Linked DNA regions of Homo sapiens. The protein of the gene in region 2 interacts with the protein of the main gene of each other region in a biochemical or structural test. Each region holds a gene or a part of one and is shown on either strand. Other genes may lie near its edges. The genes, in order: LAIR1, COL1A1, PRELP, COCH, MMP2, NID1 and PDGFA.

Region 1 (3,500 bases), on a different chromosome or scaffold from region 2:
AGAACAGGCAGGTGACTTTAGCTGGGTCTCTGGAAACAGTCAGGTGAATAAAGCTGGGTCTCTAGAAACAGCCAGGGAACTGTAGCTGGGTCTCTGGAAATAACTGAGAAACAGTCTGTCCAAGGAGCTGCTCGATTGTAGAAGGGACCACCTGGCTAACGAACCTTCTGGATGCTGGTTAGAAACCTCCAGTCTCCAGCTCTTGTCTCCAGGACAGCTGCCTGGCTGGCTTTCTAGATGAAGAGGAATCCAACAGGAAGCCTTCCAAATGGCTGCTTCAGGCTTTTCCTAGAGTGACTTTCTACCCTCAGGTGCAGAGGCCAGGTGGGTATGGGGTCAGTGTCTGGCAACGGCTGCATACGTGATGGACTCGGCCATGGGCTTTGTGGACTGTGGGGACACAGCCCGGGCTGTCCTCTGTGTGAGGGCCCAGTGGTCCAGCTGAGCATACGTCACCTCCTGGGAACTCCCTGCAGCCAGGGCCTAAGAGGGAGAGACCCAGGGTGAGGGAGTGCCTGGTGGAGGGTGAGACGAGGGGCTGTGGGGAGGGAGGGCTGTGGCGGCCATCTCCATGGGCCCTGAGGACCCTCTCCTAAATTGCATCCGTGTGAAGAGCCCTCCCACAGGGTATTGGGGTTGGTTTACGTGACAATGAACAAGGCAGAAGGGAAGACTCCTGACTTCCAAGCTGAGCCAAAAGACATGGTGCTTCTGTCCCCTCCCTGCCACCCATCCTTGGATCCCTCCCTCTGGGGGAAGCCGGCTGTGTGGAGAGGCCCCTGTGAGAGGAACAGAGGTTTCCTGCCCACAGCCGGGGAAGTGAGCGTCTTGGACGTGGATCCTCCAGCCCACGGGAGCCTTCGGATGCACACAGCCCTGGGCGACCTCTCGACAGCAACCTCAGGACAGGCCGTGAGCCGGAACCGCCCAGCTGAGCCACTCCTGAATTCCTAACCCAAGGAACTGAGATTTTTTTAAGCTGCTAAATTTGGGGTACTTTAATAACTAGTAGGAAGGCTCACCGAGGTGTCCGTCTCTCTGTCCTTCTCAGGAAGTCCATTGACTGTGGCCTTGTCTTGGGGAGAAAATACATGGTCAGTTTTCTGGGGAGGATGTCGCAAGGCAAATCTGCCTGAGACCCCCACCCCCAGCTTCCGATGACATCCTGCACCCAATGTATAATACGACCTTCTAGAATGTTCCCAAAGATTCTTCCCCCCACCCCCCACATTGCATCTGGATTGGCACCAAGTCCCCACTTCCCCATCCCAGGCCTGTCCCTCCTCCTCCCCCTTTACCTGCTGTCCTCTCTAGAACATCAACAGCCAGGTCAGGCCTAAGAGGAAAAATAAAAGTGAACCTCAGGGGCAGCCTGGCGGCCGAGGACTGGGTGGAGGTCCAGGAGTCATTCCCAGGGGCCTCACCTCTGCTGTGGCTTCTGCTCCTCGTCCTTGCTTCTGGGGGGCCCTAAGGACAGTCGGGGTGTGAATTAAGGAGACCTTCTTCCTAGCCTCTCCTGACAGCTTCCCAGGTCACCCCACCCTGCCCCTGAGACCTACCCTGCTTTATCTGATTCTGGCGATGGAGGCAGAAGAGGACCAGGAGGAGGAGACAGAAGAGGAAGACCACTGAGACCCCGATGAGAATATACAGATGCTCAGCTTTCAGGCCTTGGGAAGCAGGTGCATCTAAGAAAGACAGAAACAGGATTTCAGCAGTGTGCATTTATTGAGCACCTACTGTATACCACACACACGTCACGTGCGTTTCATAGACTTACTAATATATAAAATATCTTAGGTAAATAATAGTCCTGCAGTACAGGGATCGTTATCCCCTTCTTCCACCACCGGGGTCCTGAGTGCTGGAGTCCTCTGCACAGGGACACAGACTGCCATTGGCAGAGCAGGAATCTGATCAACCCCAAAGCCTGACCTCTTTCTCCTTCCCCAAGAGGCACACACCAGCTTCATGCTCCACGGCCCCCATCACTCACGCTCATTGTGACTGTTGTCCGACGGCCTCTGCGTGGGTCCTGGGAGGGAGGAATCAGAAGGAGGAGGAGTTAGAGTCCTGAGCTGGACAGAGAAGGCTCTGAGTCCTCCCACATCCACTGTGGGGATCTCCCTTCACTCCCCAGGACCCTGACTGCTCCCTCTAGACCAGCACCGACCAGCAGAGTCTTCTGTGATGATGGAAACTTTCTACATCTACTGTCCAGCATGAGAGTCACACATAGCTATTGATATTTAAATTTATCCAAAGTTGAATGGCATGAGAAGCTGGCTGCACCGTCTGCACCTCCAGGACTCAGTGACCCCACGGGCCTGATGCCATCCCTACTGGACGGTGCAGATACAGCGCGTTTCCTGGGCGTGAAGCTGTAGTAGACATCGCTAATTTCTGCCCTCTGCGGATCTAGGCAGAGACCAACCACCCGCAACAAGAGGAAGGGAGACCTTCCCTCCCTGACCTCCTTCTGGGTTCCCACCAGAGGGCAAGAATCCTCATGTCTGATTTTATCTGCCCTCCCGGCAACCCTCTGACGGGGATGTAACCCGCCCTCCTGTGGGAAGAATCCAAGTCCCGATGTGCTCCTCTTTCCTGAAGCCCTGCAGCTAGCGGGCGAGTGTGTGGGGCACCGCCCAGGCTCCCTACGCAGCGCATTGCAGGCCCGCCCGTCATCTCCTCCAACCTTCACCCTCCTCTGCACAGTGCACGCCACTACCCAATTCCCAGGTGGCTAAATGGGGTCCTGAGGGGCTCCCCCAAACCCAGGGTCCGAGCCAAGCGTCCCTCTTCCAGGAACAGCGGTCCCTCCCCTCCCCCGGGGCTGAGGCAGCATCTTCAATATCCTTCAAGAAAGGCAGACATTCTCTCTTGGAATGTCCTTCCCTCCTGCCTCGTCCACGGTCTAAGGTCCAGGACACCACCCGTTATTCTACACCATGACTTCCTGGGCTTGGTCTTCATAACATTTGCCACCATTTAAAATTACATATGTATTATATATGTGCAATATTACAGTTTTTATATTATTTATAGTTATATGTATCATGTATTATGCAAATGTATAATATATAACAAATATATTTTTAATTATGTAATCTTGACATATACATATAATTTAATGTATATAATGTTAATTGTATATGATTTATAACTTATAATATATGTTACATATATTCACTATAATATATAATGTATAATTTATATTTGATATAAACCTATGATTAAATATAAAATATTTTTTCTATTATAGTTATACATAATGTATACATAATAGATAATATATTTACATTAATACCTATATTTATTTATTAACTATAACACTTGAAATTTATTATACTATATATTGTAAATATATCTTTCATATAATATATAATATACACTATAGTCATATGTAGTGATACACTAACATGTTTTATTATATAATTATCTTCCTTATATATATAATATATATATAATATATATATATATTATGATGTAAACATATATAA
Region 2 (3,951 bases):
TTGGGGTGGTGGGGGGTGGAATCTATAAAGGACATTATCGGGACATCGGTGAACTTTGAATACGGACTGCACATTAGAGAGTGAATTTAATCATTGTGTAGGTCAGTTAAGAGAATGCTCTTGTTTTTAGGAAAAACACACCTAAGTATTTAGGCGCAAAAGAGCCTGATGTTAGCAACTTGCTCAAACAGTTCAGAAAAAAAAAGATACATATACATAAACAGAGACTAATAAAGCACATGTCACAAACTGTGAAGGGTATGTGAGAGTTTCCTGTAGGATTCTTGCAACTTTTCTGTAAGTTTGAAATTATTTCAAAGTATAAAATTATGTCATCTGCCAAAAAACAAAAACAAAACAGGGGAGAGTGGACACACAAGGCCTCTCCACTTACTCCTCCGAGGCCAGGGGGTCCGGGAGGTCCGGGGGGTCCGGGGGGTCCGGGAAGTCCAGGCTGTCCAGGGATGCCATCTCGGCCAGGGGGGCCTGCGGGTCCCTGCAGGGGGAGAGGGCGGGGCCGGGGTGAGCGTGGGGCCGAGAGCCATGCCCACCTGCAGCCCCCCACAGCCCAGAGTGCAACGCTTACCCTTGGGCCTCGGGGGCCAGTGTCTCCCTTGGGTCCCTGTGGGATTGGGGGAGAAGAAACAAGAGGCCAGGTTAGAGAAGGGAGGACTGTGAGGAGTCACGGGCCGCGCAGGGGCAAAATTCGAGGGCAGGAGATTACCTCGACGCCGGTGGTTTCTTGGTCGGTGGGTGACTCTAGGGGACGAAGAGACGCGCGTTAGAGCCAAGGTTTGCTAATGCTGCTCCCGTCGGCAGAGGCCTCCAGCACGGAGGGCCAGCGAGCGCCGACCACCCCCAGCCCCAGCCCCAGGCCCCAGGCCCCAGGCCCCAGGCCCCAGGCCCCGAGCGCAGCCGCACCTGAGCCGTCGGGGCAGACGGGACAGCACTCGCCCTCGGGGACTTCGGCGCCGGGGCAGTTCTTGGTCTCGTCACAGATCACGTCATCGCACAACACCTTGCCGTTGTCGCAGACGCAGATCCGGCAGGGCTCGGGTTTCCACACGTCTCGGTCATGGTACCTGAGGCCGTTCTGTACGCAGGTGATTGGTGGGACTGGGACAGGCGGAAGAGGGGCGTTGTCAGTAGTGACTGCAACCCCCAGCTTAACCACCTTTCCCCCGGGTCTAAGAGGCACACTTGGATTTTTCACTTCCCGCCCCTCCCCCCGTTCTTCTTTCCTCAAATCCTTAAAAGCTCGCCTGCTCCTCATCAGCGCGGGTGACAGCGCCGAGGCGCCTGGCCAGGGAGGCTGTAACTCTTTCCAGTTCTCAGGAATTTAAACAAAGCTTTAGTCCGCGGTGGCTTCCAACTCCAACCTCAGCCCATTGGCGCTGAAGCCAAGTGAAATAAAAACCACAGGGTGAGAGGGGGAGGGCGGGGGGAGAATAGGAGGGGCCCCATCGGGAGGGCAGGCTCGTGGGGAGTGGCTTGCGTGGTAGAGACAGGAGGAGGGCGAGGGAGGAGAGAAGGGAGGTCCAGCCCTCATCCCGCCCCCATTCCCTGGGCAGGTGGGGTGGCGGGGGCGGGGCTAGGAGAATGGGAGCGGCTGATTGGAAGGGAGGCCCCCCCAAGACTTGAAATGTACCTCAAAATTAGGAGACACCCTAACCTCCAGCACCTAGACATCTTAAAAGCCCGCTCTCGGGGCCATCCCCAGTCCCCCAAAGCCAGCCAATGCCTCCAGGTCACTTTTAGCCAAAGAACCAAAAAGTCCGCAAATAGTCCAGAAGTTAGCTAACCACTCCCACCGCGCTAGCGGCTCCCCAGACGGCCACTAGGTGTCGGGCAACGCTAAGCAATGGGGCCGGGGCGGGGCCGACCTCACCGGCCCGACTACCTCTTTAAGAGGCTTGGGCTGCCCCATCCCTGGCTTTACTTTCCAGATCTAGAGGTGGGGGTCCGCACCCAGCAATAACCCGGGTCTTCCCGCTCCGGCTCCTGCCCCAGTAAGCGTTGGACCGGGAGACGCAGTGCTCAGCATCGGTCAGCAGGGGGCGCAAGGACCCCGCCCCGCCGAGTCCGCGCCAAAGTTTCTCATCCTCCACCCGCCCACGCTCCGCACCCCCTCCGCGGCTGCCCAGCACCCCCACGGCCCCAGCAACACTCTAGCCCGCAGAGAGGGCAATCTTTCCTTATGAATCATCCCACGGCCTTCCTGATTGCTTCTACATCTTGGGCTTCAAATGCCCCGCTCGGCGCCCCCATCCCATCTTCGACGTGCTTTCCTCACTCTGCACCCAGATCCCCACTTCCCCGGTTGCGCGCTCGGGATTCTCTCTTGCACCAACTCACGCCGCGCTCCACCCTCACCTCCCGCTCCCGGGGCGCGTTCAACCCCAACCTCGCCCCAGGGTGAGCTCCCTCCTGTCTCAGGGCGCCGAGGAAGAGCCCTCATCATCTCCCTTCCATTCCCGAGTCTCCGGATCATCCACGTCTCGTTTTAAGCCGCGGCCCCCGGGACCAAGCGCAAGGCGCGATATAGAGTATCCTTGCACTCCCAAAAGTTTGGGACTTACTGTCTTCGTCTTGGCCCTCGACTTGGCCTTCCTCTTGGCCGTGCGTCAGGAGGGCGGTGGCCGCTAAGAGGAGCAGGAGCCGGAGGTCCACAAAGCTGAACATGTCTAGACCCTAGACATGTAGACTCTTTGTGGCTGGGGAGGGGGTTAGCGTCCGCTCATGCGTGGCCTCACACTCCGCGTGCCTCCTGCTCCGACCCCGAGGAGAAACTCCCGTCTGCTCCGACGACTGGCCCGGGCCCCTTTTATACTGTCCTGATGGAGAGCAGGGAGGAACCCTGCCCCTCGGAGAGGGGGAGCCGGCCGCCCGTGCCCCAGCCAATCAGAGCTGCCTGGCCCGGCCCCCAATTTGGGAGTTGGAATGGAGAGGGGGAGGAGGAGGGAAGGGAGTCCACCCCACATCTCCCCTCTTCGCAGCTCTGCCTCCCCAGCCCCCCAGCCCAGCCTGGGCCAGAGGTGCTGTGGTAGGGGTGCAGCTGGGTCCTCAGAATGGCGTGGGCTAACCAGTGGGTAGGGGTGCCCCTCTGCTCTCTTCCTGGGACCTCCAATCTAGAAGAAGTGGAACTGGGGAACTGGGGAGCTGGGTGGGGAGACTTCCAAAGGTGGAAGGGTTGGGGGTGTTGGGGAGGGGGTCCTCCTGGCTGTGCCCCAGTCACCCTCTGATATCCTGGCAAGAGCTAAGGGAGGGGCATAAAGAGGCATGCTGAGGACCTCTCCAAAACAGAGGAAGCTGGGAATTAAAAAGATGTGCCTGTTTGGGGGTGTCTTCTGGTGTGGCTAGGGGATGGAGCTTAGGAATATTTGGGGAACAATTTACAGATTCCTTTCTAGACATTAAGAATCAGATATCTGAGGGAGGGGTGCAGGCAAGGGAGTTTTAATTTTGAGGATGTCAATTCTTCTGCTGTGCTCCAGAACAGAATCAAATGCCTTCCTCCAAACCCTAGGCATGATTGAGAGATGGAGTGGGGAGGCTGAGGTGCAGGGTGAGAAACATGACTAGGTGGCCTCTGCAGAAGAAAGCTTTGGTGGTTGGGTGATGGAGCAGCCAAGGTAGGGGTGGGGGATTCTAGGGACACAGAGGTGGGGATTGGGGCTTGCAATCCCCTAAAAATTCATCCCCCAAACTCTTCCACCCCAGAGTTGGGAAGTATTTTTAGTGGGAGGCCTGTGATCATTGGTGACTTAGAGAAGAGTTTTGTTTGCCATGGCTGTGGCCAGGGGCTGCTTAGAGACCCTCCTTCCCAGCACAGTCAAACCAGAGAGAACCTGGGTGGAGGGAGGGCACTTAGCTAAAGGGGTGTCTTTCTGGGAGCTGCATAAAGCCCCTTCTCCAGTTGTACCTGGACTCAGTGTTGGGGATGTATGGGAT
Region 3 (3,500 bases), on a different chromosome or scaffold from region 2:
ACTCTTTCTCAAAAAAAAAAAAAGAAAGAAAGAAAGCACACTGGACTCCGAGTCAGGAGTCCTGGGGCTTGTCAGAGAAGACCCTTAACCACTCTGGCCCTCAGTCCTCCCATTCACAGCATGAGAAAATCATCAGTGTCTTCATGAGAGGGATGTTAGGATGTATGAACCTTAGCGTCCTGGTTAAATCCAGAAAGGTCCTTAAAGATCCTATAACCTAGTGGTTTTCCAACTCTGCTTTCATTTCTGTGACATACCCCTGTGGGGAGGAGACTGAGGAGATGGCCCTGGGGTACCCTCAACCCATCCCTGTGCCAACCTCAGCAGCTCTCTTTAAAAAAACCTATTATATATATTGAGGTTTAGCCGAAGCATTCATTTGTTGAGGGGCAGGGGACACGTTTCTTTGCTAAAAATGGCTTGAAATCCACCAATCAACTCCAGACCCCACCATTTGCAAAAACTGAGGACTGGAAGGAAGAAGTGGCTCGCCAAGGCCAAGATGCTGTTTAACAGCAGATCCAGTCTGCACACTCACACACACACCTCTTCAGGTCCCATGCACATAAGCAAACTCACTCACTTATCCTCTGTGTGCGTATATGAGCCCATACGCAGTACACTGAGTATTGGAAGGAAAGAAGGAAGGCGGAAGGGAAGGAAGGCAGAGACTGTCTTTCTCCACCTCCCTCTAAGGTGGTCTCTTCCAAGGCAGGCCTCTCCAAGGAGGTCTGGAAGGCCATTTTCCCTGGCCTCCTATCACAAAGGACCTTGCAGTTAGGTTTTTGGCTTGATCTCCCGTTAAGGATATAACATTGTCAGAGATACATTGCAAGGGTTAAAAAGAGAAGGCATTAATTGCAAAACTTTAAGCTTGAGTCTTGTTGGCTGAACCCCACTTCACTTGTAATTGGTGAACTATGAATTAACATTGTGTAAGTTCTGTAATTTTCTGGAAAACAGAACAGTCATCTTGCATATAAATTAAGGGGGTAGTTAAAGCATTGGTATTCTAAAACAAACATTTCTAAAAGCCTCAATTTTTGTGACCCTGATTTAAAAAAAAAAATTTATTTTCTAATCACCCAGAAGCCTAGAAATGATCTAGAAATCTTTCATACTGTGAGAAGCCCTGTCCCAAGGAGGCTCCCAGCACTGGCGGGAGTTTTTCTATATCCCTTCATTGCCTTTGTCACCGAAAGCATATGCCAGGGACTGGGCACCAATTTGCCCAGGGCTTCCAGCAAAAGCAGTGAGGCACTGTGGCTGTGACCTGTGCTGGGCGGGGCGGGGTTTCCTTGGCTCAGTGCCAGGGCAGCCCTGGTCTTCATTGTCAGGGGTGAGAGGAACAGGCAGGTTACTCACAGCTCCACCCAGCAGGCTGGCTGTGCGCGCCTTCTCATCCACAGTAAACACAGGCCTTCCTCATCCCCATGTGCAGCACCAGACCCTTTGGGAACTTATCTTTTCACTAGTCCTCTGACCCGTTTACATTCCAAACCTCTGGGCCTAGCCAAGCTGCTCCCAGAGCCAACAGGAGGTTCCCCAGGAAATGCTCCCAGGAGCAAGTTATGTGGGGAAGCTGAGCCTGCTCTCCTCCCCTTCCCTCAGCCCCAGGGCTGAATCAGAACCATTCCAAGTGCAGGGATGCTTCTCTCTTAAGGAAATAGCATTCATTTCTAAGGCTTTTCTCATGGGGTGATGCCCCTTCCTGCCGGAGCTTTGCCATGAGGCAGGATGAAAAGTTCTGACAGCTGACAGCACAGCCATTCTCTCTGGCAGTGCTCCGTGATGTCCTAGGTCTCTGAAACCAGAATCTGTGTGACAGACTGAGGGTACCTGGACTCCATGGGTAGTCATAGTCCCTCCTACAAAGCCTCAGACCCACACTCTATGCTCCTGCCTTCTAGAAACTTCTGTCCAATCATAAGATTCCTTAGGATGGGTCCATGTGTGTGTTTTTAAATTTTTCTTATGCTTTCACAAGTGCACTTCTCCACCCACAGCTTTCTACTGGGCTCTGCTCATTGCTCAATCAGTGAAGGTTTGTTGACCACCTACAACAGCCAACTGCATGCAGTTCTGCTCTCCACCATCAGTTCTGGAAAAGCTGCTGCTTCACGGAAGAGAAAGGCAATTGCTTTGCCCAACCCAACATTCACTCTCCACATTAAAGAACGTTTCCTAAGAGAATCTTAATTTTTTTTTCTTTTTTCACTTTAAACAAAAATGAGATGGGGGTCTCACTGTATTGCTCAGGCTGGTCTTGAACTCCTAAGCTCAAGCAATCCTCCCACCTCGGCCTTTCAAATTGCTGAGATTACAGGTGTGAGCCACTGCACCCAGCCTCTAAGAGAGTTTTAAATTCTAATTTCAATTCCAACTATTGTGGATCTGGGCTTGACTCCTGGCTCTGACTCTCCAACCCGGGCTCCTCATCTGTGTGAGGATCAAATGAGATCATGCATTTGAAGGCATGTTATAAAGTGCAAAATCTCTGCAAGTGGCAGAGGCTTACTTACTCATTTATTTGTTTATAAACAGCAGATTCTCTAGAGAGACTCCTTGATTTTTTTTTTTTTTTTTTTTTTTTTTTTTTGGTGATACAGGGTCTCCCTTTGTTGACCAGGCTAGAGTGCAGTAGTGCAATCACAGCTCACTGCAGCCTTAACCTCCCTGGGCTCAGGTGATCCTTCCATCTCAGCGTCCTGAGCAGCTAGTACTATAGGCATGTGCTACCACAGCTGGCTAATTTTTGTCTTTTTTGTAGAGATGGGGTTTTACCATGTTGCCCAGGCTGGTCTCCAACCCCTGAGCTCAAGTGATCTGTCCTCCTCAGTCTCCCAAAGTGCTGGGATTACAGGCATGAGCCACAGCGCCCCAAGGACTCCTTGATTTTTAAAGTGAGATAGCCCCCTTCCCTATCTCTCTCATTAATTTAATGTTAAAACCCAGGAGTGGTGGAATGTTTCTGCTCAGGGCAGGGTTGGGTGGAAGTCCTGATGGGTTGGTCAAGTCATTAGGAGCAGCTATTTAAGGCTAATTGGCTTTGTATGGAGAGGTTGAGGTTGGGCTGGGAATGAGGTTGGGTTTGTCTCCCAGGGCTAGGCAGGGCTAGCAGCAGGGTTACGCCGCACTCTGAACTGGCATTCTTCTTACTTGTCAGATCTCCTGTCTAATTGGTCACCCCTAAGCCTCCATGCCTTGACCCAGAGCTACCCTGCAGTGGAGAATGGGGCTGCTTCTGACCTAGCGCTGTGCCGGTGAATGTCGGAACACCCCTCTCTCTTTTTTCCCTTCTTTCTGTTCTCAACCTAGGTGTCTGAAAGCCATCCTGCTCTCTGTATCTCTTCCTGTAGTCCAGAAGGGTGTTGGAAGCAGGGAGAATCAAGCAGTCTTTGCCAATTTATGAGCAGAGTTAGTAGAGGAGTGAGCCTGAGGCCCTTTCAAGGCCCCCATTAGGGCTGATGTGGTCCTGAGATAACAAAGGAGCCTTATGG
Region 4 (3,500 bases), on a different chromosome or scaffold from region 2:
TGTTCACTGAGTGGAAGAAAGAAAATGTTATTCAGGGAGAATTAAAAAGGTAAAATAAGCAACATTACATGCCTTAAAAAACAGTTTTAAAACCAGACAACACACAAGTTTCTTTCTTAATTCCATAGTACATAGTCAACTGAGGCATTGCATCCTTACTTGAATTATTGGAGATATTTCAGAGGTGTAACAAATAATTGCCATATTGAGGATTTATTATATTCTGGGTAATAAGCCAAAAGCATAACACATGTAAAACCTCATTTCATCATAGCTCTATAAGGTTGGAATTATCCCAATTATGTAAATGAAGAAACTGAGTCTCAGAGCATTTAGGGAGTTTGCCTGATGAAACACAGCTGCATTTTAAGTTCAAGTTGTCTGGCTGCAAAGTCCATGCCTAAACTATACGGAGAACTTGAAATCGGGCTTGGCTCAGAGCCTCGGGTTTAACAGAAGTCCGCAGAGTTGGGCACCAGGTAGCTAAACTAAATGAGGAAGTGGCTGGGTATGAGACTAGGGTCTGTTCCAGTGTGGGACCCCAGAGGCTCTAAGTAGTGTGGATCTATTAACTCAGAGCTCTCTGTTCAGGAGAAACAATTTCATTGATGTGACCGTCAACATTTTTTTAAAGGGACAAAGGTGAAATGAATTATAAAGTTACAATATTGAGTTTTTCTTATAATGACAATGACATTTGTGCACCTTAAAATTATGTGTATTGTAAGAGTTTTGAGATCTCATTTCCTATATTTAATATTAAAGGAATTTCAGCTCACTTTTATATAACTACTCTGTGTTCAGCAGAGACCGTTTTGAGTATAAACAACCACAGCACAATCTGTTGTGTTTAGTTTCTAGATGAGTCAGTATTTCCTAGTGCAAAATTTAAGATCTTAGCATTATCAGTAGCCATTTTATTCAAGATTTTTTGAGGGAGAAGTAGAACACTGACTGTATTTCTGCATACATACCTGATGGAATATTGGGTCATAAAATCAGATTTCATGGGTTGAAAACCTTTTCACTTGTGGTCACTTTTCAACTATCCAGATTATGACTTATGAAATTAGTCTCATTTTTGTATCCTTGATATATTCTGTTCTTTGACTTACATACATATAAACTTGACATGGTTTACCTATTCTAATGGTCTTTCTAAAACAGAAAAACTACAAAACTTTGTATGAGTCTACAAGGTAATGAAGAATTCATCTTCAAAAAGAATTGGGTCAAAGTAGTCAGAAAAAAGTACAAGACAAAAAGTACTGCAGGGGAATTTGCCTCATGGGATGTTAAAATGTGCAATAAAACTGTGATAATCAAAGCAGCGTAGAAAAAAATATGTAAGGATTAGCATATGAATCAAAGAAATAGACTTGCTCAAACTCAGGTATAAATGTGATACCATAAGTCAATGAAACAAGGAACACATTTTTTTTAAGGGTGAGAGACAAATGGTTAAATTATGTTAAAACAGTTAAATTTTCTTCTCATGCCAAAAAAATTCTATCTAATCTAAGAGCAGAGCCACTTGTAAAAAATAACAGAAATGAAATGGAAATTAATATTTGTAATAGCACTGTTTATACAACCTTACACACTGCTGATAGTAGTTTAAACTACTTCACCTTTCTAGGAAGCAATTTCGCTATTTATTTGTTTTTTTAGAGATGGGGTCTTTCTCTGTTGTCCAGGCTGGAGTAGAGTGGTGCCATCATAGCTCACTGCAGCTTTGAACTCCTGGGCTTGAGAGATCCTCACACCTCAGCCTCCTGAGCAGCTGGCACTACAGGCATGAGCCACTGTGCATGGCTCAATTTCACTATTTATATCAGAGGCTTTAAGTCAGAACCTCACTTTTAGAAATCTAACCTGATGAAATAATCAGAGATGGGCACAAAGATGATATAAGGATGTTCATCACAGTGTAGTGTGTAATGTAGTGAAGAAATAATAAGAATGACTAATCATGCAGCGGAATATTATGAAATATTTTTGATGAATATTTGTGATATGAGAAAATGCTAAAAATACTAAAGGATGAAAAAAACAGGATGCAGGGCATTTTTAATAGTCTGAGTTTTTAAAAAATAATACAGTCAAATATTTCCTTAAAATACTGAAGGGGCCAGGCGTGGTAGCTCACACCTGTAATCCTAGCACTTTGGGAGTCCGAGGCAGGTGGATCACCTGAGGTCAGGAGCTCGAGACCAGGCTGGCCAACATGGTGAAACCTTGTCTCTACTAAAAATACAAAAATTAGCCAGGCGTAGTAGTGCACACCTGTGATCCCAGCTACTCAGGAGGCTGAGGCAGGAGAATCACTTAAATCCAGGAGGCAGAGGTTGTAGTGAACAAAGATCGTGCCATTGCATTCCAGCCTCGGTGACAGAGCAAAACTCCGTCTCAAAAAAAAAAAAAAAAAAAAAAAAAAACCATTTTATAGTGATTATCTCTAGGGCATATGATTTAGAGCATTTCTTTTTTTGTGCTCTATGTATTTTCAAGCTTTCTATAATGAGCATATTCTATTTCTAAAAGCAATTAATAAATAAATATTTATTTATTTATTTATTTTTATTTTTATTTTTTGAAACAGAGTCTTGCTCTGTTGCCCAGGCTGGAGTGCAGTGGCACGATCTTGGCTCACTGCAAGCTCCACCTCCTGGGTTCACGCCATTCTCCTGCCTCAGCCTCCCGAGTAGCTGGGACTACAGGCGCCTGCCACCACGCCCGGCTAATTTTTTTTTTTTGTATTTTTAGTAGAGACGGGGTTTCCCCGTGTTAGCCAGGATGGTCTCAATCTCCTGACCCCGTGATCCATCCGCCTCGGCCTCCCAAAGTGCTGGGATTACAGGCGTGAGCCACCGCACCTGGCCAGCAATTAATAAATATTTTTAAATGAATAAAATAGAAAGGTCGTGCTTCAGATCACCAACCAAGAGAATATGGAAAGAGCTAAAAAGAATAACAGAATAGGGAGGTGGAATAGACATATCACTGCTTCTTCCTTCAGAAGAGAGAAATTAGGAATTGAGCAGAGTAGATAAGCAGAGGTGACTTGTGTAAGCAACAGGACTCTCCAGTCTACCTTCTGGTTCTTATATAGATAGCACACAGTTTTCTAAATTCTTTTATTCCAAAAAGGAGGCACTCAGATCTACTCAGTCTGCCCAGGCAGTCTTAGATCCTGAACTTACAGTTTGGGAACCCAGTGTGTCCATAACTCAAATGTTTATACTGAACTGACATGTACCCACTAAAAGAACTGATCATTTGTCATCATTCAAGACTCATTCAAATCTCCTCTCATTTGATTTTTTTCTTTTTTTTTTTTTTTTTTGAGACATAGTCTCACTGTTGCCCAGGCTGGAGTGCAGTGGTGCAATCTCGGCTCATTGTAACCTCTGCCTCCCGAGTCCAAGTGATTCTCCTGCCTCAGCCTCCCAAGTAGCTAGGATTACAGGTGCATGCCACCACATCTGGCTAATTTTTGT
Region 5 (3,500 bases), on a different chromosome or scaffold from region 2:
AATTCCTGTTGGAGGAAGGGAAGAAGGAAAGGAGGGAGGGATAGAGAGGAGGGCAGGAAGGAGACAGGGAGGAAAGCACGGAGCTCTTAATAAAAAACAGACTAAAAGGTGGAGATACAGACCAGGAAAGGCAGGGAAGAGAGATTGCAGGGTCAGAGAGGAGGAGAGAGAAGTCTCTGCCAGAGAGCCTGAGAGAAAAGGGATGCAGGTCGGTCAGAGGATCCTGAGCAGGCCTGACATTTAAGTGTCACCAATTCAACTGTTGATGCCCAATGTCTGTTCTGATTTCAGTGCCCAGGCCATACCAGGTGACAAGTATCCTGACTAGCTACACGGACATCTTGGTGTGGATGTCATTCGCACAGATGTCTTAGCACCCCTGTCTTGGGGAAAGGAGGTGGGCACTCGGAGTCTTATGGGTTTTTTTTTTGTCAGACAGCAGGTGCTGGGCCCTGAGGGAGGGAGAGGGAGTGGCACCCACCGGTCTCAGGGCAGAAGCCATACTTCTTGTCGCGGTCGTAGTCCTCAGTGGTGCCGCACCAGCGGTAGCCATCCGTGCGGCCCTCAGTGGTGCAGCTGTCATAGGATGTGCCCTGGAAGCGGAATGGAAACTTGCAGGGCTGTCCTTCAGCGTTGCCGCCCATGGTGAACAGGGCTAAGGGTGGGGGAGAGAGGGAAGGATGTGAATGAGACATGCTTCCATGGGCACAGGGCTGGCTGGCTGCCCACCTGCCGGTTCACACCAGTGAAGTTGATGCATTGTTAAAATATTAAGAAAACATCTCTACTGGTTGGTAAGGAGCTGCTTCTCTGAGCTCCCAGAGAGAACCCCTGCTTCCCTGGTTATCCCAATCCCTCCCGTGGGACCTTGTGGACCACCCAACAACAAAATGATTGACACCTGGCACACAGCAAGGGCTTCTAGAACCCTGCCTCAGCCCCAAGGGCACTGTCCATTCTGCCTGGTCCACACCTGTACCATGCAAATTTCATGTAATAATGATGTATGACATGAATATATCAGTCATGGCAGGCAGGACCACGAGAATCTCTCTCCATTTGATAGGTGGAGAAATCAAGGCTAGGACAAAGATGGTTCTCAAACTGCTCATGGTCACAGAAATGAAAGAAGTGAATGAAGGTTGTAACTAAAAACTACAAAACACACTAATCTCAATCTCTCTTGCTTAGTCTGTCACTCTCATATATGTGTGTGTGCGTGCACACGCATACACAGAAAGCTTGCTTTACCTCCTGTCAACCCCAGGCCCCTTCCTGGATGGCCTTGTTGCAGTCTCTGTAGGAAGGAGAGAAAGAATGAAGAGGAGGAGGGAGGGAGAGGGAGGTGGTGCCTTCAGGTCCCTTTTACTAAACACTCTGGGCTCCTACTTTGACATCTTCAAGACAGGGGCCATAAATGGAGAGTTGGGGGAGGGAGTGGGGTTCAGAGCCTGGCCTGTCTGTCTTGGATTCTCCCCATCCTCCCCTCATCCACCCAAAGCTAAAAAATGGTGTCTCTGGAATTGCCAACCAGCAAAACCACAAGTCCATAACAAGGACCATCTGTGCACAACGGCGCCAGAGGTGACCTCACCAGCCCCCGTTAACTCCACCATGGCCGGAATGGAGCCCAGTCCCTGGCCTCCCACCACAGAACTCGAGGCCCTGTATCCTCACCACTCCCCTCTCTACCAAAAGACCTTGTCCTGCAATGCCAGAAACAATGGCACCTAGAGAAAAGGCAAGACTGAGTCCAGATACCTTAGTGGCCTCAGAGTTGAGAAAGGCAAAGCGTTAACTTCGACCAATGCCAGCCCCCTGCCTCTGACCTCTCATTTCTACCACCCAGGAAGCCCCTGTCTCCTCCCAAATTCCCCTGACAAGGATGGCAAGAATCAGACACTGACTCAGCCATCAGCAGGGGCTGAGTAACAACAATCTCTGCCTCGAGACCCAGACACGTGCGTGTTGTGCGTACTTGCATCTGGCTAAGCACAAAGTAAATGGCTAATGTCCAATGCAGGGAATAACCCTTCCCAAATTTATGAAATACAGCTGTTTCCACATCTAACTATCACCAAAGCTTTCTGTTCCTATCAGAGGGGTGACACAGGGAAGGGTTAACGCCACATGTAATCCCTACCGGGAAACGCAAGATACAAAAAATATTTTTATTTCAAAATGTCTGACTTATTAATGGTGAATGGCTTAAACTCTTACTTAATATAAAGTTTAGCTCTGGTAGTAAAAGCATAAACAGGAAGGGAATTAACTAGCTCTTTGTTTCTTTCATTCTGTCAAGATGGTTGGTGCTTAGTTTTCAGTTACAGTGGGGTTAGGGAGATTCACAGACATAAAATTACAGACAAAAAGACAGTCTTTAGTCTATGTAGACTATAGAGTCTTTGTGACATGGGAAAGAAGATAGTGTTAAAAATTTTTAGACTTTTTTCCATTTTCGCCAGGTTTTCTGGGCTTTCAATCTGCAGAATTATCAAATATGATGACTTCATAGAGTATGAAGTTACATTGTCTTTTTGTGATTTATGACTATTAAGTGTGTCAAGGATATTTTTAAAAAGGATTGAGTGTGTATGTCAATATCTGTACCCCATTTTAAAAGATTTCCCCCATGTGGCTTCAAAATCTCTGAAATGTTGCATCTCAGGCACTGACAAGCACACAAACACAAATACTGAGTCAAGCCTAAAGTCTTTATCAAGACACAGAGATGCAGACACAAGCTAGACAGGAGGCAGAAAAAGACAGTGCCCAAGAGAGGCAGATAGTATAGCCCCCGTGCCCAGACACACACACACACACACACACACACACACACACACACACACAGGCACACACACACACACACACACACGCATTAGCAGAGGCAGCATCAGGACCAAGGCAGGAGCAATAGCTGAAATTCCTCAGTTGGAGTACGCAAACCAGGTTGAGTCCAGCCCTGGTCTGAGTCCTGCCTCCCTATCACACTGCTAGGTTTCCAGCTACCAGCAAGCCTTTCCTCATGCCCTTGAAGTATCAATCTTGACTGAAGTGTAAAGACTGGTTCTAGAGAGAACCACTGGGCATTGTAATAGTTCTAAGTTCACTCCAATATATATTAGAAATAAATAATTAGCAAATCAAATCTGTGACTTCCTAAATGATTGCTAATGGTGAAACTTAAAAAAAATCAACTTGATTTAATTAGAGTACTACGTTCATCATGGTACTGGTGGGAGAGAAACAGCAATGGCTCAGATCAGGATGGGGGGGAACTGAGTGAAGGACGTTGGAGGGATGCTCATTAACTGGCAGTGGCAGCCAGTCCTGGAGAGTGTGGAGGGAAGAGCACACTGGGGAGCCCGGGAAGCTGGAGGCTTGGGGTGGAAAGTCTTGGGGACTAGAGTGGATGCTCACCTTCATGGGGACAGAAGCCGTACTTGCCATCCTTCTCAAAGTTGTAGGTGGTGGAGCACCAGAGGAAGCCATCGCTGCGG
Region 6 (3,500 bases), on a different chromosome or scaffold from region 2:
TTACCAGCACATCACTAAGTGAAGGGCAGAGGAATTCAAGCTAGATTTGAAGATATAAAATTAAAAGGTGGTTTTAGGGGATTCACTCTTGGTTTTTAAAGAATAATGGGAGAGGAAAGGTTTTAATCTTCAAAATCCAATTTGGGCTTTTCCCTCTTTTGTCAAATTCTACAACATAACCTGAGAGCACCATTTCTGTTGTAAGAATATTCCCCCTAGTCAATGTGAAGGAAAAGGTTTTCTCAGCCTTGAGATCAAAGGAGATAGGTTTGAATAACCCTTATTTCTAACAGTGTTTATAGACAAAATGGTAAAAACTGTCTTAAGGCCGGGCGCGGCACTTCATGCCTGTAATCCCAGCACTTTGGGAGGCTGAGGTGGGCAGATCACCCGAGGGCAGGAGTTCAAGACCAGCCTGGCCAACATGGTGAAACCCCGTCTCTACTAAAAATACAAGAATTAGCTGGGCATGGTGGCACACACCTGTAATCCCAGCTACTTGGGAAGCTGAGGCGAGAGAATCACTTGAACCTGGGAGGCAGAGGTTGCAGTGAGTCGAGATTGTGCCATTGCACTCCAGCCTTCCAGCTTGGGCAACAGAGTAAGGCTCTGTCTCAAAAAAAAAAAAAAAAAAAAAAAAAAGAACTATTTTAAATGAGGATGATATCTAAAAAATAGGATATCTGTTCATTCTAAAAATACATTTCCTTAAGTTCATCAGAAAAAGAGTATCTCATAATATAAAAACTATATGCAAAACTTAAATCCATAGGAACATTTTTAGGTAATGATCTATAATACACATTACATTATCCACATTAAAAAATATTAAGAGGAGAATCTACTGAAGAACAAAGAAAGCATACTTGGCCAAATTTTCAACTGATTCCCTGTCATTAGCAAATATGTTATAAGCTCCGTTGCTCTTCCATAAGAATCCCACTGAACCTTGACTGAATGCAACCACGGCAGGAACTTGGTTGTTTTCCTTCTTTGAGAATGTCGTATGGAACTGCAGACCATCCTCAGGATAAAGGAAAATGGCATAGGAGCTGGAATCAGAGGAGGCTAGAACAGCCTGGAACGTGTTTCTCTGTGAAGATGAGTTAAAATTCAGTTACTCGGAAAAATATCGATAGATTTTAAAATGTGTTATTCGCCAGACTATCTATAAAGCGTACAGTGCTATAGAGCGATGGCAATATTCTCACCTTATTCTAAAAGAAGGACTTTTGTAGCAAGAACCTAGGATTCTGGGATAGTTCCACTGAAATATCCCTAAGGCTATGTCAACATGACATTTTCTGATTAATTCATAAATATCTTCTGCATAACTGTGGCCCTAAGGTTAACCAAAAATTATACAGATGGTACCTCCAGATGGTGGCCTAAAATCTCACGCAGTTTAGGAAATTCTTACCCAAAGACTTTGTTTCCATGGCTGTTAACATATTCAACCGCATTCATCGTTTAACAAACATTTATTGAACCCAAGCACCGTACAGTAGAAAAAACAAAACAAAACATGAGATTTGGGAGAAAACAGACCTGGATCCAAATCTTTGCTCTACTCATTATTATGTGACTTGGGCGTGATACTTGAGTTCCCTAAGCCTCGATGTTTGCATCTGTAAAATGGAGATAAAACCACCTCCTTCACAGAAATGAGGAAGACTACATGAGGTCACGTATGAAAGAGCAGGCACATGCCGGGCGCGGTGGCTCATGCCTGTAATCCCAGCACTTTGGGAAGGCTGACATGTGAAGAAAACATTGCAAAACCTGAGGTTGGATTCTGTAATCGAAACATTTGCAAAGCGCTGCAGGAGCCGTAAGAGGAAGCGTCCCATGCCAGGAGCGGTGGGAGTGCATCCCATGCCAGGAGGCTGTGGTTGGTCAAGGCCTCACGGGAGGGCCCAGTCTGAATGAACAAGCAGGAGGAAGCTGCCACCTGTAGGGGGGTCAGGGAGAGGACGTCCCAAACAGAGAGGACAGCCTGTGCAAGATACTGCGGATAAAAAAAAAAGAGCAAGGGCAAGGTCAGGGAATTACATGTAATTTGGTATAGCGGCTGCAAAGGGTATGCGGAGGTGGAACAGATTAGGCCCAAGAGGCAAGCAAGGGATCCATACCAATGGGTTAGGCATTTATCACCCAAGTGAAAGGGAGGCAGCTGAGACACTTAACATTTAAGCTGTTTTCAAGTTTGGCACTCAGACAGATAACAGTTGGCAAGCAAAATGTGTCATGCAGGCCCCTAACAGACTTTCCCAAAGTGTGCTCTGTGGGATGTAATGCATCTTTTTTGGAGCGGGGGAAGGGAAGAGGTATGGTCACAGGTTTGGAGACTGCTCAGTTAAACAATATTCGGCAAGGCTGGAATGGTGGCTCACGCCCTTAGTCCCAGCTACCTGGGAGGCTGAGGCAGGAGAATCACTTGAACCCAGGAGGTGGAGATTGCAATGAGCCAAGATGGCACCACTGCACTCCAGCCTGGGTGACAGAGCAAGACTCTGTCTCAAAACAAAAACAAAAACAAAAACAAAAAAAGTAGTATTAGGCAAGTTGCAAGTTTCCTGACTGCAGGACTTTTCAGAGTGAACAGGGTGAATCACCAAGAGGGAGATATAGTTTTAGCATTTCCCAAACTAGAAGGCCTTTTCCTCAAGGTGTATCTTGTAGGACTGGTGTTTTGTGGTACACACTTTAGGAACCACCAGCCTGAAATACCTCCCATTTATATGAAGTGCTTTGGGACCCTTCAAGTTTCTTTCTTCCTCATTTTCCTATAAAGGTGAAGTTATGGTAGAGAGAAATTATTTTTCCAAGGGAAAATCGAGGCCTGTCCTAAAAAGTCACTTCAGGTCTAACAACGAGTTCCTGACCTACTCAAAGACCCTGCTTCCTTCAAGGGCAAGTCCGTGCTCTACAGCCTGGTCCTTCCAGCCGTCCCTGATGACTGCGCCCACGGAGAGGCCAACCCTGGGTTATGACAATACTTGGGTTTTGAACCACTCACATGGTCCAAATGATTCTTGTCTCCCCAACTAGAGTCTGGGCTTTACCTTTCTATCTTTGCATCCCTCAGGAGTACTTTGTTATTTTAACCTATCGTTTCATATTAATAATTTCTCTAGTCAGAAACTATCCTTCCAGCCGGGCTCGGTGGCACACACCTGTAATCCCAGCACTTTGGGAGGCTGAGGTGGGTGGATCATTTGAGGTCAGCAGTTGGAGACCAGCCTGGCCAATGTGGTGAAACCCCATCTCTACTAAAAATACAAAAATTAGCCAGTGTGGTGGCCCATGCCTGTAATCCCAGCTACTCGGGAGGCTGAGGCACAATAATTGCTTGAACCTGGGAGGTGGAGGCTGCAGAGAGCTGAGATTGTGCCACTGTACTCCAGCCTGGGCAACAGAGCAAGACTCCATCTCAAAAAAAAAAAAAAAAAAAAAAAAAAGGCCGGGCATGGTGGCTCACGCCTGTAATCCCAGCACTT
Region 7 (3,044 bases), on a different chromosome or scaffold from region 2:
AGGCAACTGCAGATGGATGCCACTAGCCAGACAGAAGGCGGACACTGATGATACCTCAAGACTACCCTCCCTGCTCTGCAATCCCACCCTTAGATGAAAGTCATGAAGCTCGATCTTATCTCAATCCCTGTGCTGTCTGGTGTTACTAGCAGCCAAATGCAATTTCCAACACAGTAGCCAACAGCCCTGCACGTTTATAAAGGATTTCCAGATATATTCAGCCTCCAACAGTCCTTATCTGTAATCTCAGTTAAGCCTCAGTTTTTTCATCTGTCAAATGGGGTGGGTGATCCCAGAGTGGCCAGGCGCTCAGAGCTGCCCCACCGCTGCTCAGGTCGCCCAACCTGTTCCATTCATGTGCAATGCTCCTGCATCCCCAATCAACGACAAAGAGAAGGACAAAGCTGGAGGCAGGCTCCCAAGCGGGAGTGAGCCACGGGCCAGGGCGTTCTGCGAGGCAGGAGCGGACGGGGAGCAAGGAGACCCAAGCCCAGCAGACACCATCAAGGCCAATCAGGGCCACATCCCCGCCGCACCCGGCGAGACAGGAAGCGTGATTTGCTGGTGTGATCAGTCAGTTGCACCTCCCCGCCCTGCAGGACTCAGTGTGTCCGGCAGACAGTCCTACCTGGTTGGCTGCTTTAGGTGGGTTTTAACCTTTTTCTTTTCCGTTTTTTACCTGACTCCCTAGGCCTTCCTGTTAACAAAAGGGCAGGGCGGTGAGTGGGCCGAGGGACGGCCGTCGGGGTGAAGAACTGAAGCAACAAATACCTACGGCATTTGTTTATCTTTCCAGAAGAGAAGGCCAGCACCCTGGCACCGAGAAACTTCTGAGTCCCCTCATGCTCCCAGGGCCCAGCCATAGCAGGGCACAGAAGCCATTCTGCTCCTGGGTGGAGTCCGCGTGGCGGGGTGAAGGAGAGACCCCAGCCAGCCAGGGCAACTGCAGTCCTCGAACCTGCTCCTCCCGCCCACCCTGGCAGGAGGCCCTTCTGCAGATTCTTCTCAGCTCAGCCCCGCAGCCCACTAATGAATTGGGTGTCTTATGCACTCCCAGCCCCTCTCAGTGAGACCTGAATCTCCTCTCCTGCCAGTGCCGCAGCTTGGGCCACCCTCCCCACCGGACACCTGCAGGTGTGGGATCCGTCTCCCCCGCAGGCATCTGGCCCGGGAGCAGGGCAACGAATCCTTCAACAGCAGCCCAGATGCTCACAGCAGTAAGCGTTGCGCTCAAGGGGGCCACCTAACACCCCAAAAGCAAGGCTCTGAAGACCTGTTCTCCAACACCGATGCCGACGAAGGCAGCCACTCACCCGTGTCCTCTTCCCGATAATCCGGATTCAGGCTTGTGGTCGCGCAGGCGCACTCCAAATGCTCCTCTAACCTCACCTGGACTTCTTTTAATTTTGGCTTCTTCCTGACGTATTCCACCTTGGCCACCTGCCAGAGAGAACAGAGCCCGGCCATGAATGCCTGCATGGAGCTTCGGACATCACGACGTGCTGGGAGCCGGGGACAGGCTGAGAGGGAGGAGAGAGCAGCCTGACCCCTGACCTCCTCCCAGAAACACTACCTTGTGGTGGGGAGTGTAGCAGTACCAGGTGAAAAACCTACAAGCTGCAGTGCAGTTTTGTGTGTGTGTGTTTTAGTTTTTTCTGAGTAGGGTCTCACCCTGTCACCTAGGCCAATCATAGCCTCTGCAGCCTCAAGCTCTTGGGCTCAAGTGATCCTTCCACCTCAGCCTCCCACCTGTAAGCACAGGCCACCATGCCCAGCTAATTTTAAATATTTTTTTTGTGTGGAAGAGATGAGATCTCGCTATGTTGCCGAGGTTGATGTTGAACTCCTGGACTCAAGTGATCCTCCTGCCTCAGCCTCCCAAAGTGCTGGAACTTCAAGTGAGAGCCGCCGCGCCTGGTGTTGGAGCATGGTATTTAGCAGACTCATCCTATTTTTGTTTAAAATAAACCCAAAGGTTCACGTGTGCCTGGGGGGGCTGAAGGATGCACACTGCTAAGGTGTGGAAGTTTGGGAGTTCTGGGGTGCAGGTGGCCAGGGAAAGTGTTTGCTTGTGTGTGGATGTGCAGCTGGGAAATGTTTTCAAATGATCACGTTGTTTTTAAATACATTTTAAAAGCCAGGCTGAGCATGGTGGCTCACGCCTGTAATCCCAGCACTTTGGAAGGCCAAGGCGGGAGGATCACTTAACTCCAGGGGTTCAAGACCAGCCTGGGCAACATAGTAAGACCCTGCCTCTAAAAACAATTTAAAAATTAGCAAGCCATGGTGGCACCTGTAGTCCCAGCCTACTTGGGAGGCTGAGGTAGGAGGATCGCTTGAGCCCAGGAGTTTGAGGCTGCAGTGAGCTGGTATCACACCACTGCACTCCAGCCTGGGCAATACACCAAGACCCTGTCTCTATTAATATTAAAAAAAAATTTAAAGCCATGGCCTAGGAATGGGGGGTTCGTGGCTGTATCCTAGCCCAAGGTTGCTGTGGACTTGAGCGTCCAGATGATAATCCCAGCTGCTGGCCTGATGAGGGCCCCACCTCCCCGCCGGCCCCAGGCAGCAGGGCCAGCAGACCCATACCCAGGGTCCCCTCATGGCTCCCCCAGGTCCGAGGCTCTCCTTGGGCTCGGAGAGGCCTGACCTCGGAAACCAGGGCCAGGGATCCTGGGCCATCACCGAGGCTACACAAGATGATCCAGGAGGAGCACAGGCCAGCAGGCCGTGGCTATCAGGCACAGGCAGCTCAAAAGCGAACCAGACCTCAGCTGGGTTCCCCTCTTCGGACTGGACTTTGCCTGTCTGCGAGCCACGCCTGCCCTCAATTCTCCAGGCACAAAACCACAACATGGGGGTCCTGCCTCCACAGCCCCTTCCCCGGGGAGCTGCAGGCAGACAATGGCCCAGTCCAGGCCAGAGAGGGGAGCTTCAGGCATTCAACAAGAGAGGCAAGAAATCACACACACACACACACACACACACACACACACACACACACATAATGCACATATAGGCCCTGTCACGGGAACACAACT

What was found.
Region 1: the proteins of COL1A1 (region 2) and LAIR1 form a complex in vitro, tested with the Homo sapiens proteins (one study listed by BioGRID).
Region 3: the proteins of COL1A1 (region 2) and PRELP form a complex in vitro, tested with the Homo sapiens proteins (one study listed by BioGRID).
Region 4: the proteins of COL1A1 (region 2) and COCH interact in a biophysical measurement, tested with the Homo sapiens proteins (one study listed by IntAct).
Region 5: the proteins of COL1A1 (region 2) and MMP2 form a complex in vitro, tested with the Homo sapiens proteins (one study listed by BioGRID).
Region 6: the proteins of COL1A1 (region 2) and NID1 form a complex in vitro, tested with the Homo sapiens proteins (one study listed by BioGRID).
Region 7: the proteins of COL1A1 (region 2) and PDGFA form a complex in vitro, tested with the Homo sapiens proteins (one study listed by BioGRID).

The regions. Positions count from the first base shown.
Region 1 is NC_000019.10:54,354,932-54,358,431, forward strand, and holds part of LAIR1 (leukocyte-associated immunoglobulin-like receptor 1 isoform a precursor), read right to left. Parts: exon of another isoform or gene 3,405-3,500; intron 2,036-3,404; coding exon 1,997-2,035; intron 1,689-1,996; coding exon 1,560-1,688; intron 1,468-1,559; coding exon 1,425-1,467; intron 1,337-1,424; coding exon 1,299-1,336; intron 1,076-1,298; coding exon 1,023-1,075; intron 484-1,022; coding exon 337-483; 3' UTR 1-336. UniProt on the Homo sapiens protein: Functions as an inhibitory receptor that plays a constitutive negative regulatory role on cytolytic function of natural killer (NK) cells, B-cells and T-cells.
Region 2 is NC_000017.11:50,198,832-50,202,782, forward strand, and holds the start of COL1A1 (collagen alpha-1(I) chain preproprotein), read right to left. Parts: upstream 2,801-3,951; 5' UTR 2,683-2,800; coding exon 2,580-2,682; intron 1,117-2,579; coding exon 922-1,116; intron 760-921; coding exon 725-759; intron 623-724; coding exon 587-622; intron 497-586; coding exon 395-496; intron 1-394. UniProt on the Homo sapiens protein: Type I collagen is a member of group I collagen (fibrillar forming collagen).
Region 3 is NC_000001.11:203,478,806-203,482,305, reverse strand, and holds part of PRELP (prolargin precursor), read right to left. Parts: intron 1-3,500. UniProt on the Homo sapiens protein: May anchor basement membranes to the underlying connective tissue.
Region 4 is NC_000014.9:30,881,059-30,884,558, reverse strand, and holds part of COCH (cochlin isoform b precursor), read right to left. Parts: intron 50-3,500; exon of another isoform or gene 7-49; coding exon 1-6. UniProt on the Homo sapiens protein: Plays a role in the control of cell shape and motility in the trabecular meshwork.
Region 5 is NC_000016.10:55,485,698-55,489,197, reverse strand, and holds part of MMP2 (72 kDa type IV collagenase isoform 1 preproprotein), read right to left. Parts: coding exon 3,421-3,500; intron 656-3,420; coding exon 482-655; intron 1-481.
Region 6 is NC_000001.11:236,044,591-236,048,090, forward strand, and holds part of NID1 (nidogen-1 precursor), read right to left. Parts: intron 1,094-3,500; coding exon 867-1,093; intron 1-866. UniProt on the Homo sapiens protein: Sulfated glycoprotein widely distributed in basement membranes and tightly associated with laminin. Also binds to collagen IV and perlecan. It probably has a role in cell-extracellular matrix interactions.
Region 7 is NC_000007.14:499,803-502,846, forward strand, and holds part of PDGFA (platelet-derived growth factor subunit A isoform 2 preproprotein), read right to left. Parts: intron 1,441-3,044; coding exon 1,314-1,440; intron 698-1,313; coding exon of another isoform or gene 642-697; exon of another isoform or gene 629-641; intron 1-628.